2 separate regions of the Homo sapiens genome follow, and region 2 is linked to region 1. Evidence: fine-mapped expression QTL. Tissue or cell type: skeletal muscle. Region 1 holds a variant in brackets; the other region holds the start of a gene. All regions are shown on one strand. Distances are between the middles of the regions.

Region 1 (8,102 bases):
TTGGGTGGTGATTGGGCTGGCAGCACAACAGCATGTGTTTGCATTTGAGCTATGGAGTGATAACCATACTTTCAGAAGTTTCCTCTGGAAGACACTTACTGGATGGGTTGGAGTGGGACAGACTAGAAGGAGGGAGACTCAGTAATTAATTGTTGAACCAATCTTTATTGAGTACCCATAGCGTGTCAGCCCGGCACGATACTAGGTGTTGGTAGTATCACAATGAGCAAAACCAGAGGTGTCCCTCTACTGGGGAGTTTATGGCTATGATAGCAGGATGCAGGAAAAAGGAAGTCCTGTCAAGGCTTTTCCGTTTCATAAGCCAGCCCACAGGGAATAGAAAAAATTCAGGGCACTTGGTTTCAGAGAAACAGGGAGAGTTAAGGGAAAAGAGATATATGCATTGGTGCTGGTGGGTCCCTGAGGAAGGAACTCTATGCCTTGTTCCTCCCAGACCAAAGCTGCTGTTGCTGCCTGGGGAGCATGGGGACACATTGGCCAAAGACCCAAAAGAAGCTTAATTTCCCAGGTATCTTCAGTAGCAATCTGTGTGGATAAGTGACAGAAGATTAGTCAGGGAGAAGTTGCCAGCTTAAACAACTGACACTGATAATTAGATGAATTTTCTTTTTTTCTTTTTTTTTACATGGAGTCTCACTCACTGTCACCCAGCTGGAGAGCAGTGGCGTGATCTTGGCTCACTGCAACCTCTGCCTTCTGGATTTAAGTGATTCTCCTGCCTCAGCCTCCTGAGTAGGGATTACAGCACACACCACCACACCTGGCTAGTTTTGTTTGGTATTTTTAGAGAGACAGGGTTTCATCATTTTGGCTAGGCTGGACTTGAACTCTTTCACCTCAAGTGATCCCTCTGCCTCAGTCTCCCAAAGTGCTGGGATTACAGGTGTGAGCCATTGCCCCCGGCCAGGATTAGATACATTTTCTCCCCCAACTTTGGCCCTATATTCATTTTCCAAAAGGTGTCTACGACCTGAAAATCAAGGATGGGAAGAACCCTGAACTGTCTGAGACTGTTTCTACTACCCACATGGAAAAGAGAGTTGAAAAGAAATTAATTTGTCATAGAAAAAAAAAAAGGTTAAATTTCTTTCCCAGGAAAGTCTGTGACCTGAGATTGTTAATCTTAGACATCAGAAAGGATCGCACAAGCAAATGTAAAATTGAAACTGTTAGAAAAGCTGGAAGGTGAGGTTTAGGATGCTACCAGAGCCTGTCCTGGAAGAAGGACTCTTAGCTGAGGGGCAGGAAGTGACAAGAGCTCAGATGAAGATGGATGTGTCTGAGGAACATCTGATGGAAAGAAACAACTGGGTGAGGTGACAGATTGGGAGCCTACAGAGTGTGTACTCTAGGAGGAAGGCAGAACTGGAAGGCTGAATGGTTGGGGGTGGGAGGGAAGAGTTACGTTTTAGAGGGTTGAGTTTGAGAAACAAGTTTTAACATCAAAAGGAAGCTCTCCTATGACAGCTCTTGATGGTGATAAAAACATTCAGTCAGCAACCTGGATTTTTTTTTTTTTTTTTAATGTTCATGCTTGTTGCTTCCTTGAAACTTCACACCTACTGTGAAGTGGTATTTTTAGGTCCTTTATAGTTCTTGAACGTCAAGCAATGAAGGCTCAGAGAAATGAAGCTGTGTGCTCAGGATCACACGACAGGCAAGAGATCACCTCATTCTGAAGCCCTGTTCATTCTCCTTCACGGTGCTGCTGAAGCAGGATATTGCCCTGACCTTTCACAGGACTCACAACAGGGGTGCCCCGTTTACTCAGCCCGCTGCTCTCAACTCCTCATGGGAGGGAGTACGCAAGTGAACAAGGCGGGAACTGGAGTGCACAAGCGCTGGAACAAGCCAGCCGTTTTTCAGCACCAGTGGGATCACACTCCACTCACTCAAGATTCACCGCGTTCCACCCCTCATAGGAGGGAGCGTGCAGGTGAGTGGGTGCAGGAGCCAGAGCGTGCGCTTTTGGACACCGGCAGGAGCGAACTCCGTGCAGGCCCCGGGGCAGTGTCCAGGCAGAGTGCCTGAGGCTCCTGAAGCCCCAGAGGGCATGTTACAGTGTTCTTTTGGCTCTGTCGTCCGTGGACAGCTTAAGTGTTAACAGCTCCGTGGGCCCGCGGTTGCCCTCCACCAGCAAGGGCAGAGGGCCAGCGTGACAGCTTTTGTATCCGCACTCGTGGCTCCCGAGCTCTTGTCCAGCGTCCAAGAAAAATAAAGCTGCACGAACAAATTAAAGGACAAATGCCTGGGATTTTATTGCTGATCAAAGTGGATTTCAGAGGGAAGGTGAGCTGAAAAGAGGGGGGTGGGACAGGCCGGTATGTAGTCTTCCCTTGAAGTCCAGCTATCTCCAGCCAGATTCGTCTCAGAAGTTACGCCTTAAGCTGTCCCTCTGAAGACAAGCTGCTTCTCTCTGACATCCAGCCATGGTCGTCCCCTCATCCAGCTGCTTCTCCTCTCTGCCAGATGAGTCTGGGGTCTTTCTAGGCACAGGATGAGGCAGGGCAGAGCCATGGGTGGCTTAGGAAAAGGCAACATTCAACTGGAAAAACATGGATAGAAGTTCTCACTTTGGGCCATGGTTTCAGGCTTTTTGGCTTGAGGGTGGGGTTTCACCAGGGACCCGCTCTTTTCTACCTAGCATTTATCTGCCTCCTGTCCCTATGCACTGCCTTTGTGGCAGAAAAAGGAGAGTGAGAGTTGGTTCCTCTCTTTCTCTGAAATTCTGAGCTAACATTTGGGAGCCGTCTACAGTATTCAGGTATGAATTTTCTCTCTGGGGGAGCGCATTCGTTTTCCTAGAGCAGTGTGCTTTTAATTGCTCCTTTAATATCTTTCTCTTTTGTGCCTTTTTAGCGCGAAAAGTGTATGGGAAGACTAGGTGCTCGTTAGCGGCTCGGTTAGAACTACATTGCCCACAATGCCCCAGGGAACATTTGTAGCTCTAGAACTACATGACCCAAAATGCCGAGTGGTGGCAAGAGGAGGATTAGCTTCCACTCCGATTTCAAAGATCCAGTTTACCCACTCTACAGCCCAGATATAGTCACTTATTTCCCCTTTCCAGCCAGAGACTTCCGTTCCCTGCTGGAACTTCCGATCCCATTCTTCTCTCGGTGGGAATGCTTGTGGGGGGAAAAAGAAACGCAATAGATAAAGCGGGGCGCATGCGCTCCCGGCACAGGCTTCGATTGTGAGGAAGGCCGGCTAGTCTCCGAGCTCATCCCGCCTTGCGCATGCGGAGAAGGTAAACCAGCGCCCCGAGTTGAGGCGCGGGTTTGGTGGCGCGTTTCAGCGAAGTCGCACGTGAAGGATAGCAGTGGCCTGAGAAAGGTGAGAGCGGGCCGAGGTCGGAATGTGGGGCAGCGCACGGGAAGGGGAGACAGCAGCCGCTGCAGGCGGCACCAGGCGGAGCCGCGAGGCCTGGAGAGTCCGAGTGGGGAGGGGTCCGCGCGCCCAGCGTGCGAAACAAACCGGGGACCCGGATCCCCGTTGCTATGCAACCGGGGGCGTCGTTTCCAGGCAACCCGGGAGGCGCACGTTTCCGGGGAGAAGAGGGTTGCGGCGAGGTTCCGAGGTCCGGCAGAGGTGGAGCGGCTCCCGGGCGTGGGGACCAGGCCAGCGCCAAGCCCGAGCCCCCGAACCCCGACCCACGGCCCAGCCTCCTGCAGCCTCGGCTCGAGCCCTTCGGGGGGCCCCAAACTCATGGGTCGCGCCACGTTCCTTGCCAGCGACGCTACCCCTCAGCGCTTGGCAGGGGACGCGCCGTTCGAAATAGCACATGCCACTGACACCCTGTCTCCGGGAGGCTGCGCCCCGGTTAGGGCGCGGAGCGGCAGGGAAGCTGCCCCTTTGCCGTCGCCCTGCCCCCAAACAGTTGCTGGGCAGCAGCTGTCAGGGGTTTAGTGGGAGCTGCCCCCAACCTGCCAGGGCGCTGACTTCATTCTCTGCAGTGGCGGCTTCGCCTTGTTTAGGACCTTCCTTTAGACTCAGCTGTGCTTCTCGTGTGGCTGCTGTATATTTGGATCTACTATTAAAATAACCTCCCTCCTCACCTCTCCATGGCTTTCTCGTTCGACCCTCACGGTTTCTTGGCAGGTTGCTAATATTCATTTAATAAACATTTATTAGTCATCTTTCCTACTAGGCGCTGGGGATTCCAACATGTCAAGTCTAACCGGGAGTCGCTCGGTCTACTGGGGAAGGCAGGTTGATAAACTGCTAAATTATGCTACGATATATAGTCAGTGGTAATGTGTGTGCTGCAACATTTCTATAGATGTTTAGTTTACAAAGCGCTTGCTGCAGAAATATCTTAACTCCTTACAGCAACTCTTCACCTGGGTTCACTCCCTTTTACGTTTGAGGAGACTGCAACTCAGGCAGGTTAAGTAACAGGCGTAAGGTAGTAGCTTCTAGTCCGTGGCACACTTGAGCCTGGGACGGAAGTCAGGGGTCCTTTGTACACTGCTGCACTTTTGAAGCTTTGCTTAGACTTTTCCCTGAGCTGCTGGCTATGCATCCGAAATTCCTG[A/C]GGAGCTTTGCAAAACAAAGGGCTGAGTCCCTCTCTGGAAGAGTCTGAGTGAGTAGCCCTGGGTGGGGCAGACGTCCTTGTTTAACAGGCTGCACAGGCAGTTCCGATGGGCAGCCAAAGTTGAGAACCGCCGCTCCTTAGGGGCAGCTATGAGCAGCGGCGGGACAGTCAGAGCCGGTAGAGGGCACTTTTTGCCGCCCCTCCTGCCACCTGGTGATTCATAGCATGAAATGAAACTAACAAAAGGAAAGAGAAGAGGAGGAAGGAGCCTTGATTGGGAGGGGGGGGCGCGAAATGCCCCATCCTACCCTTGTAGCAAACCACAGCTAAACATAAGCAGTGGCGCCTTCTCACTAACACAATAAGTAAAGCTGTTTCCCCAGCCAGGCTGGGCTCTCCAGACCCACCTGAGCCATATTGCAGCTGCCGAACAGAAGTGGCAGGTTTTGTCTCCCACCTTTTGCTGTCCTCTCATACCTCTTGGTACAAAACCATGGCCTGTAAGCCCAGAAGGCAGATGGTCTCCTGGTATGTGTTCCCTCGGAGGAGTCTGGATGTCCTTCCACTTTGAGCTTGTTGGTGAACTTCAGCTCCATGAGGGCAGGGACTATGTCCACTATCAAGGCAGCATGCGGGTATGGGACAAGCAAAAAGGCAAGATTGAGATCCTGGGTACTGGAGTCAAGTCCCAGCTCTGCTGTGTGATCTTGGATAAGTCACTCAACCTCTCTAAGCCATACTTTTCTGAGTAAGATGAAGAGGGTAATAATACCTTAAAAGATTGTTGTTAGAGTTAAATGAAGTGATGAAACAATAAGCACTCTGTGAATTATAAAGCACCACACAAAAATTATTATAACATATGTATATGTATAGATATGTATAACATTTGTATTATTATGAGTTGTTAATTGAGTGCCTATTATTTGTCTGAGGCCAGGCATTGCAGAAGGTGAAGAAGTTTTAAGACATGCTTCCTCCTCTCAGAGGCTGAGACTGTTTCCATGCCTTTAGTAAAACTATTTGATTAGGCCAAAGTGAGGAGGCCTAATAGCAGTGAGTCCATACTGCCTGAGATTCACCTGGAAAAAAATGAGAAGGAATCCTATTAAAGAAAACAATTTGAAAAAGCAGACCAGCCAGCCAATCTCTGCACTCATTATCTCCAAAGGATACACTACACAATCCTGTTAGGTTTGGTATCTGGTGCACTTCAGAACATCAGTCTGCATAACGATGCCAGCCTCACTGCAGAGGGCTTATTTCAAGGTCTCCTAGCTCCCCTTAACTGGGGCAGACAGCCACTGGAGAGTTGGGGCTGGCACAGAACAAGGCAGGCTGCTGTGGGAGGAGCAGCTTATGGCACCCTGACCTCCTAGGGCTGAGGAAACGATATTTGATCCCTCCTGGTGGAGGTCCTTGGATAAAGGATCCAACCCAAGATAGCAACCCTGCTCTTTTAAGTCCCCAACATGGTTATGACCCAGATAGCTCAGGAACTCACCTGTGCTTTCCTCATCTGCGACCACTGGCAGGCAGGAACCATCTGGTTCTTGATTTGTGCCAAAGACAGTAGAAGGCTTTCCCAGCCTGAGGGCCTTCTACATGAATTGCATGTTTTTCAGCCTTGCTTGACCCTCCAGGCTTCTGGAAGGGCTTAGAGCAGCTGTTTCTGGACCAAAAAGTACCCTAAATGTAGTATTTTTAGAACCCTTTCCTAGACTCTCCTCCTTCCCCCTAAGCAAGACTAGGACATCATTCTCTTCCTTCTCCATCCCTCATGGCTCTGGATTTATTGTCAACTCCCTGAGTGCCTGTGTAACTGCAAAAAGTTCAAAAACCTGACTGCTCCTACCTCAGGGGCATGGCTTAGCCTCTGATCATCAGGTCTGAATCATGAAAACTCCTGGAGCTACAGGTTCATTTCTGAACCTGGAGGGGAACAGGGAATTTGCTGGCGCTGTCTGACATTTCTCAAGCACAGTGGCAAGTAGAAGTTGAACTTGTGTACTTTTTCTTGGCTGATCCTTACCTGCTTCAATGAGTTGGCACTTGTTGGGTCTTAACTTGTCTGTGGCATTGTGTTACAAGACCAGAGCACAAAGCACAAAGTTGTTAGGTAATTTTCACCAGTAATTCACTGAGATGATTGGTAGATGCCAAGTTTATTTTAACTCATGAATAATCTGTTGTGTGACTTTTTTTTTTAAGCGTCTTGCTCTCTTGCCCAGGATGGGATACAGTGGCATGATCATAGCTCACTGCAGCCGTGACCTCCTGGGCTCAAGTGATCCTCCCCCCTCAGCCTCCCAAATAGCTGGGAGTACAGGCACGCACCACCACACCTGACTAATTTATTTATTTATATTTATTTTGTAGAGACAGGGTCTCCTATGTTGCCCAGGCTGCTCCCAAACTCCTGGGCTCAAGCAATCCTCCCACCTCAGCCTCCCAAAGTGTTGGGATTACAGGAATGAGCCACTGTGCCTGGCCTGTATGACTTTCTAAATCACTTCTGAGACTTAGTTGGAGACAATACAGCAGAGTTGTTGTGTATGAGGGGTCCAATGTCAGAAGTACCTACATTCAAATGCTGATTTCCCCAGTTAATACTTAACCTGCCTCAATTACTTCAGTAAAATGGGGGATAATAGCAACACCTACCCGATGGGCTGTTGTGACAGTTAAATGAGCGCGGTGGTGCATGGCAAGACCTAGCTGAATGTTAGCTTTTTATTAATAGTATTTCTTTAAAGGTTGTTCATTATACCCTTGCTCACTGTCCTCGTCCATTTTCTGCTTCCTATAACAGAATGCCACTGCCTGCGTAGTTTATAATGAACAGAAATTCATTAGGGTCACAGTTCCAGAGGCTGGGAAGTCTAAGGGCATGGCGCTGGCATCTGGCAAGGGTCATCCTATGGCAGAAGGCAGAACCCAGCACATGAGACAGAGACAGGAAATCAGGCCAAAGTCATCCTTTTTATCAGGAGCTGCATTCCTGGGATAACTAATCCACTCCCAAGATAACGGCATTAATCCATTCATGAGGGCTGAACCCTCATAACCTAATCACCTCTTAAAGGTCCCACCTTTTAATACCATCATCATGGCAATTAAATTTCTTTCTTTTTTTTTTTTTTTTGGTGGAGAAGGGGTCAAACTATTTTACTGAGGGGAATGGGGTGTCAAAGAAGTACTTAGGACCATGAGATCCAACATCCTTGGCTGGACTGGGAGCTCCCAGGCTCTGCAGGAGGTGCAAGAACAGTTAAATTTCAACATGAGTTTTGCTCTTCAAACCATAGCACCTCCATTGGGGGTGGGGAGGTGAGGTCACTCTGTATCAGTGGTTCTCAACTTCATGCAGTGGAACTGCCTAGGGAGCTTTTGCAGATCCAAGGCTAGGCCACACCCAGACAATGATATCAGAACCTCTGGGCTGGGGACACAGACATCAGTACTTGGGAAGCTTCCAGGTGATTCCAGTGAGCAGCCATGGTTGAGACCCACAGTATAACTTGACTCCTAATGAAGATGGGTG
Region 2 (8,102 bases), 880 kb after region 1:
TCTGTCTCCATCAACCAAGGGGTCATGCTGGTAAGAGCTTTAAGGACCCTGCTGACCTGACTCTGGGGAGGCTTCCCTGGGCTGTGCCTTGGAGGCTCACGCATCCATCCCATTGCAGCTCTTACCCTTGGGTGCTCACACGTAGATGCCAACCCAGAGCAGCAGGAAGAGGACTCCAAAGCCCATGAAGAGTGAGGCCACTAAGGAGATGAGGAGCTCTTTATAGATATCACGAGTGTACTTGGTAGAGGTGACCTCGTAACTGGGCACAGCAGTTAAGGCAAAGCGAAGGGGTGGACTGTGGAGTGCAGAGAGCCCAGCCCACGGCAATCTGAGGAGAAAAGCATTGGCTCAATGCCTTCTGGGAGGCCTATCTGGCTCAGAGCAGCCAGGCAGAGGGGCCTAAGAGATGCCTTGGACTCTGGTGCTCCACTGCCATGAAGAAAATGAGACCCAGAGGAGTTAGGTCACTTGCCCCAGGTCACACAGCTCATGAGGGCCGGAGCTGGGACTAGCCCTCAGACCTCCTGACACCTGAGTGCACCCTTCCTTATACCACCTTTCCAACTGTAGCACCCCTATTCCCCACCTCCACTCCAGCCAGGTCCCCTGCTCACTGTCCTGGAAATCCAAAGAACAAACTGAGCTCACCTGAACTTGGGAAATAAGGCTATAACCTGCCCCTGGGCATCACTAGCCCTCCTCTCCTCCTTACCTTCTCTCAGCCCCAATCCAATGTACAAAACCGGCGGGGTCCATGTACCTAGCGTGGTTTCTCCCTGAGCTTCCCACATCACTAATGCTGGTCCTCTGGCTGCTCAGTGAAAGGATACACGAAGAACCAGGCGGTGAAGAACATGCCAATGGCCAAAAGCACCACGGTCAGATGGGGGAAGACAGCTGGGTTCACTGGGCTGGTATATCTGCTCATGGCCTCGAGCTCCTAGAGGAGGGAAAGAGATCAGAGCTATCAAAGAATCCCACGATTTCAGCCTGGAGAGAACATGCGGTTATCAAGGAGCCTGGTGCTGCCGTGAAACAGAGGCTGATTTTAGCCCGGAAATGTAGCTGCAGATCAATGGCCCTTATTAGCATTTTCTGAGGCCAATAATCTGACCACTATGAAAACGTGACTAAAGGTACGAACTCTCTGCCTGAGAAAAACCACATACAAGAAAAAGTTTGCCTACAATTTCCGGAGCTTTGTGGACCAGTGTCTATAGACACCAAGCTGAGAACCCCCGCTATAAGTCACTGACTGGTGGTACCCAGATCTCAATATCTTTTTTTTTTGACGGAGTCTCATTTTTTGGACGGCGTCTCACTCTGTCGCCCGGGCTGGAGGGCAGTGGCACGATCTCGGCTCACTGCAACCTCTGCCTCCCGGGTTCTAGAGATTCTCATACCTCAGCCTCTCGAGTAGCTGGGACTATAGGATTACAGGTGCGCACCACCACATCTAATTTTTGTATTTTTAGTAGAGATGGGGTTTTGCCATGCTGGCCAGGATGGTCTTGAATTCCTGACCTCAGGTGATCTGCCTGCCTCGGCCTCCCAAAGTACTGAGATTACAGGTGTGAGTTGCCGCGCCCAGGCTCAATTTTTTTTTTTTTCCAGACAGTCTTGCTCTATCGCCCAGGCTGGAGTGCCTGGAGTGCAGTGGTGCCAACTCGGCTCACTGCAAGCTCCGCCTTCTGGGTTCAAGTGATTATCCTGCCTCAGCCTCCCGAGCAGCTGGGATTACAGGCGTGAACCACCATGCCCGGCTAATTTTTTGTATTTTTAGGAGAGACAGGGTTTCACCTTGCTGGCCAGGCTGGTCTTGAACTTCTGACCTCCTGATCCGCTCGCCTCAGCCTCCCAAAGTGCTGGGATTACAGGAGTGAACCACCGCGCCTGGCCCTCAATTTCTAATTCAGTATTTTCCTCACTACCTATGCTATTATGGAATCTTGTGAGCTATGGTCAAGACATTCAAGTTCTGGTTCTGAGTAATCTGAGTCTGAGTAAAGCGACTGTAATATCTATTTCACAGAACTGAAAAATAAGAAAGATGATGAATCAAAGCATCTAGTGCCTAGCAGGGAGTATTTTGCTCAACAGGTATTTGCTTCCTTCCTAAGGCTGTAGGGAAGATGATGAGATAATGTCTTTTATGAAAGAGGGCTGTAAACGTAAAGATCTGTACAAATGTTAACTTCATTGTCACCGGTCAGCCAATGCTTCTAAAATCCAGAACATAACAACTCTAGAGAAGTAAACTGCCCCCATTGTTCTGAGACACTGGAATTCAATTCAGTAAACAATCACGGCCCCCTTCCCCCAAAATGATAAAGACAATCACTGCCATTTATTGAGCTTCCAATTACGGGCCCTCTGTTTGGCACTGAGAATACAAAGATGAATAGACATCATCCCAGAGCTAGATGCGCGTCAGACGGTGGTCACTAGGAGGCGTGGCCGAAAACAAAGAAGTCCATGGAACGTGGCCAGAGATCTGTACAGAGGCTGTGGGCGCTCCTAGGAAAGTCTGGCCAAGTGCCTGAGAGTTGGAAGTGCTTCACCAATAAACATTTGCCCAGGGCATTGTAGGATGGGCACGGGTTCGGCAGAAGAACTTTCCAAATAAAGATAACACACCACCGATAACAGAGATATACAAACTGGAAGGTATTCAAAATTCGCCCCACGCCTCTCGCCCTTAGAAATCGCGAGCTGAGAAACCTAAGGAGTTCATGGCAAGGGGCTTCCCCCTTCCCCACCCTTCAGCCCAAGCCGGAGGTTCCAGGAGCGTCTAGCCCTCTGGATCTCCGGCGTCTGAGGAGATAAGCGCGGTGTGGGTCAGACCCCGAGGGGTCCTCGCATCTCCGTCTGGAACTCCCCTCAACGCTCTCACCATTTTGCCCCGCGAAGGCTAATCCGCCGCTCCGCCACCGGAAGAACACGTCGGCAGGAGCAGGCGCCTAGCACAACCGGAAAAGGAAGTGCCTCCGGCGCAAGTGGCATTGAGGGACTTGTAGTCCTGCGATTTCGGGTGTAGAGGGAGCAGGGGCCTGCGGGGACCTGGTGTGGGTGGAGTGGGGACAAGCGGTGGAGAAGGGTACGCCAGGGTCGCTGAGAGACTCTGTTCTCCCTGGAGGGACTGGTTGCCATGAGAGCAGCCGTCTGAGGGGACGCAGCCTGCACTACGCGCCCCAAGAGGCTGTGCGTGGCGAGCAGGTCACGTGACGGGAGCGCGGGCTTTGGAAGGCGGCTGAACGTCAGGCCACCCGCCGCTAAGCTGAGAAGGGAGAGCGAGCTTAGGACCGCCTGCCCGGGGCAACCCCGAACCAAGCTTTAGCCGCCGAGGCCGCGTGTCCCAAAGGCCAGGTGAGACCCCATGGGAAGCGCCTCCGGGAGCGACGGGGTCCGCTTGGCGCTGGGGGCCGTGGGGAGCCGGGGTCTGGAGTGCGCGGGATTCGCAGTCAAGAGGTCCCGCCACTTTTCCCCCTGTGAGCCTTGGGCCAGTCGCGTAAGCTCCGAGCCTCTCTTTCCTCCATTGTAGAAAAGCGGTAATAAGTTCCACCTTATGGGGTCGTGTTGTATTTTTCCTAAGACCTTGGACGAGAAACATTTCTGACACTTGAGTTGTTTAGGCCCCTTTCCTGCCTACCTGTCTGTGGGACGCCGTGAGGGGATCAAGGGCTACATGGTCTGGTCCTCAGTCCACACTCCAGCAGCGCGGCCGGCTTGAGGCAAGAGCCGAAGGGTTGAACAGGCCTGGAGAGGGGACATTAGAGGTTTCTGTCTGTTGTCTCAGTTAACCCTGGCAGCAGCCCTGAGAGACAGGCATGGTAATCGTTCTTCTTCTGTAGACGAGAAAATAAACCTCAGTGGCTTGGTAATGTCACACGGATGGTAAATGCCGCGCCTAGATTCAAGGCCAGAGCTTTTGCCGCTGCAGTTCACAGGGGAATTATTCATATTAATCAAATGAATAATTCATTGTCAATTAATTATTAATTGATTAATAATCCAGGGATGGACCTGGAAGGACGCGTGAGAGGATGGCGAGAGGAGGGCACAGCTAAGGAAAAGTGGGAAAAGGCGGGCCTTATTCCAGCTTTCTGTTGAGATCCCAGAATGTAGGGTTAGGTTGGGAACCAGAACATGAAAGATCGTGATGCCATGCTGAAGTGTTTGGACTGAATTAGAAGGAAGAATTGAACAGTCATTGATGCTCTAGAAAGAACCCTGTGAAGAAAGAGTGGGAACAATGAAAAGGCCTGATGGAGTCTTTCGTTTCTTCTTTCTCTTTTCTTTTGTCTTCTTTTCTTTTCTTGACAGGGTCTTGCTCTGTTGCCCAGGCTGGAGTGTGGTGGCACAATCATAGCTCACTGTAGCCTGGAACTCCTGGGCTCATGTGATCCTCCCACCACGGCCTCCCAAAGTGCTGGGATTACTGCCCAGAGCCTCTGTGCCTGGCCCCAGTAGAATATTTCTTGGAGTATTGGACACATACCAACAGTGGGCACAAGATGAGTTTTTTATTTTTTTGAGACGGAGTCTCACTCTCTTGCTAGGCTGGAGTGCAGCGGCACAATCTCGGCTCACTGCATTCTCTGCCTCCTGGGTTCAAGCGATTCTCCTGCCTCAGCCTCCCGAGTAGCTGGGATTACAGGTGCACACCACCACACCCAGCTAATTTTTTTTTTTTTTGTATTTTTAGTAGAGACAGGGTTTCACCGTGTTGGCCAGGATGGCAAGATGATTTTAAATTGCACCCCCTAAAAATCCTTTTTAATAGTTATACATTTAATACATATTAAAATATAACTAATAGAACACAAATATTATTGCTTATGAGTTTTCCAGTTTAGTTTTTTAAAAAAAATTCTAAGTGAATGAAAGTACGGGTTTTAGTTGGAAGTAGCAAAAATCGTGAGGGTGATTTGGGAAACACTGCTATCTGGGAAACACTGAACTCTGAAGTGCAATACTCTTTTGAGCCCAGTGACTACAGCATGCCAGACCCCTAAATCAGGACCTGGGGAGGAGCCATGGAGTTAACATTTCAGACTGAGTGGTGGCGAGAAAACGCAAAGGGAAAGACTTGAAACTCTAGCAACATTATAATAAAAGTAGAAACTCTTATGTGCTGAGGCGATGATGAAGAGAGTTTAGAGAAGCTTGTGAGAAAGCCACATCACCTCCATTCAGATATGTTTGCAATCCTTTTTCAAGGCTGCCTTATTAGTCAGGGTTCTCCAGAGACTCAAAACAAATCAGATCTGTTTGTTTAGCTGGTGTATTTGCCTGTCTTTCAGGTCTGCCATTATGGTCCCTGGACTCCTCAAGCCAGGCCAAGCATCCTGGCCTTCTGTGGTCCTTGATGGAGACCTATGTTGCAGGTTTTTTTTGTGTAATAAATAATGCTGCTACCTTAGAATATCAACAGTATCTTATTTCTCTAAGCACGTGGTTCAATTTCTGGTACTCGTTGAGCCTTACTATTGAGTAAATTCTCCTGCTAGACTGAGTTTTTTGAGAATGGGGACCTTGTTCATCTTTTTATCTTTAGCAGTGCTGACATGGTGTCCTTTTTGTTGTGTGGAATTTAGTTGAAGGCATGAAGTTGGTGAGATAACACCAGTTATAACCTTTCTCCTTTCCTCCGTCTCTGACTTGCCTTTCTTTTTTAGTCATCCCTCCTCTGTGTTGCCATGGGAATTCAAGGCCTGGCCAAACTAATTGCTGATGTGGCCCCCAGTGCCATCCGGGAGAATGACATCAAGAGCTACTTTGGCCGTAAGGTGGCCATTGATGCCTCTATGAGCATTTATCAGTTCCTGATTGCTGTTCGCCAGGGTGGGGATGTGCTGCAGAATGAGGAGGGTGAGACCACCAGCCACCTGATGGGCATGTTCTACCGCACCATTCGCATGATGGAGAACGGCATCAAGCCCGTGTATGTCTTTGATGGCAAGCCGCCACAGCTCAAGTCAGGCGAGCTGGCCAAACGCAGTGAGCGGCGGGCTGAGGCAGAGAAGCAGCTGCAGCAGGCTCAGGCTGCTGGGGCCGAGCAGGAGGTGGAAAAATTCACTAAGCGGCTGGTGAAGGTCACTAAGCAGCACAATGATGAGTGCAAACATCTGCTGAGCCTCATGGGCATCCCTTATCTTGATGCACCCAGTGAGGCAGAGGCCAGCTGTGCTGCCCTGGTGAAGGCTGGCAAAGTCTATGCTGCGGCTACCGAGGACATGGACTGCCTCACCTTCGGCAGCCCTGTGCTAATGCGACACCTGACTGCCAGTGAAGCCAAAAAGCTGCCAATCCAGGAATTCCACCTGAGCCGGATTCTGCAGGAGCTGGGCCTGAACCAGGAACAGTTTGTGGATCTGTGCATCCTGCTAGGCAGTGACTACTGTGAGAGTATCCGGGGTATTGGGCCCAAGCGGGCTGTGGACCTCATCCAGAAGCACAAGAGCATCGAGGAGATCGTGCGGCGACTTGACCCCAACAAGTACCCTGTGCCAGAAAATTGGCTCCACAAGGAGGCTCACCAGCTCTTCTTGGAACCTGAGGTGCTGGACCCAGAGTCTGTGGAGCTGAAGTGGAGCGAGCCAAATGAAGAAGAGCTGATCAAGTTCATGTGTGGTGAAAAGCAGTTCTCTGAGGAGCGAATCCGCAGTGGGGTCAAGAGGCTGAGTAAGAGCCGCCAAGGCAGCACCCAGGGCCGCCTGGATGATTTCTTCAAGGTGACCGGCTCACTCTCTTCAGCTAAGCGCAAGGAGCCAGAACCCAAGGGATCCACTAAGAAGAAGGCAAAGACTGGGGCAGCAGGGAAGTTTAAAAGGGGAAAATAAATGTGTTTCCCCATTATACCTCCTTCACCCCAGAATATTTGCCGTCTTGTACCCTTAAGAGCTACAGCTAGAGAAACCTTCACGGGGTGGAGAGAGGATTCTAAGGCTTTTCTAGCGTGACCCTTTTCAGTAGTGCTAGTCCCTTTTTTACTTGATCTTAATGGCAAGAAGGCCACAGAGGTACTTTTCCTTTTTTAGCTCAGGAAAATATGTCAGGCTCAAACCACTTCTCAGGCAGTTTAATGGACACTAAGTCCATTGTTACATGAAAGTGATAGATAGCAACAAGTTTTGGAGAAGAGAGAGGGAGATAAAAGGGGGAGACAAAAGATGTACAGAAATGATTTCCTGGCTGGCCAACTGGTGGCCAGTGGGAGGTGATGGTGGACCTAGACTGTGCTTTTCTGTCTTGTTCAGCCTTGACCCACCTTGAGAGAGAGCCACCAGGAAGGCGCATCTTAGCAGATGGGAGGAACTGCTGAGAGAAGATGGGCAGAAAGCTGGAGCCCCTGGAGTTGGCTGTGTCTGTGTTTGTGACTGATTACTGGCTGTGTCTTGGGTGGGCAGAAACTCGAACTTGCTATGTAATTTGTGTCTAGTTATTCAGAGGAGTAAGATGGTGATGTTCACCTGGCAATCAGCTGAGTTGAGACTTTGGAATAAGACACTGGTTTTCATGCGCTGTTTTTGTTTTAAAGTTATGAAGAAAAAAGTCAATAAAATTCTAAAAGTAACCAAAATGTCATGTTCTTTGAGAACATTTGAAAATATCCCAAGTGACCATGGCTCCAAATAGCTTTCCTTTTCACTCTTAACATGCTGTAATTGCACTTGATTAACAATGGGTGGTTTGAGAGTGGCCACAAGATGGCACCATGCTCCATAAAATGGCCATAGCAGCTAGATGGAACTTCAGCCATTAGGAGGAGGATGTTTTGTTTATTTTATTTTGCTGGGAGAGGAGTTTTAATACGTTGAATAGATTTCTAGTCTCTCACTCCATGAGATCAAAGGAGTGCCTTTAAGAAAGCCTCACAATTTAGATCAACTACCTCATAACATCCAAGCATTTACTTTGCCACTACTTGTAAACTGAAAGCTGCCATTCAGAAACCATTTTCTTGTTCCTTTTGTAACATCAAATCCAAGATACTGTTTCCCATAGAGATGGCATGTTTTTGAGCTTTGAAAGTTTTATAATCCTGATAAAGCTTGGCCCATTTGAATGTCTGACGTTTTAGCATTCCTGTCAGGGCC

The links. PIP is the estimated chance that this variant, and not a neighbour inherited with it, causes the effect.
Region 2: it holds the start of FEN1, and the variant in region 1 is fine-mapped to the expression of FEN1 in skeletal muscle (GTEx, PIP above 0.99).

The regions. Positions count from the first base shown.
Region 1 is chr11:60,910,912-60,919,013 of GRCh38, forward strand. TMEM109 (transmembrane protein 109) reads left to right here and starts at 3,247. Exons shown (of 4, transcript NM_024092.3): 1 at 3,247-3,357. TMEM109-DT (TMEM109 divergent transcript) reads right to left here and starts at 3,152. Exons shown (of 2, transcript NR_186356.1): 1 at 3,049-3,152; 2 at 2,255-2,566. It overlaps LOC124902676 (a long non-coding RNA gene), which reads right to left. Exons shown (of 2, transcript XR_007062688.1): 2 at 6,705-8,102. RefSeq lists enhancers at 1,486-2,484, 3,483-4,481, 3,876-4,045, 5,106-5,155, 7,926-8,102 and 1 more and a silencer at 3,536-3,695. The variant A/C (reference allele first, on the strand shown) is at 4,559.
Region 2 is chr11:61,789,660-61,797,761 of GRCh38, forward strand. It overlaps FEN1 (flap structure-specific endonuclease 1), which reads left to right and starts at 3,252. Exons shown (of 2, transcript NM_004111.6): 1 at 3,252-3,369; 2 at 5,682-7,579. The coding sequence starts at 5,703. The coding sequence ends at 6,845. It overlaps TMEM258 (transmembrane protein 258), which reads right to left and starts at 2,940. Exons shown (of 4, transcript NM_014206.4): 1 at 2,897-2,940; 2 at 834-943; 3 at 126-262. The coding sequence starts at 2,899. The coding sequence ends at 136. It overlaps MIR611 (microRNA 611), which reads right to left and starts at 2,902; the gene lies at 2,836-2,902. RefSeq lists enhancers at 2,188-3,165, 2,958-3,252, 3,166-4,141, 5,687-6,187.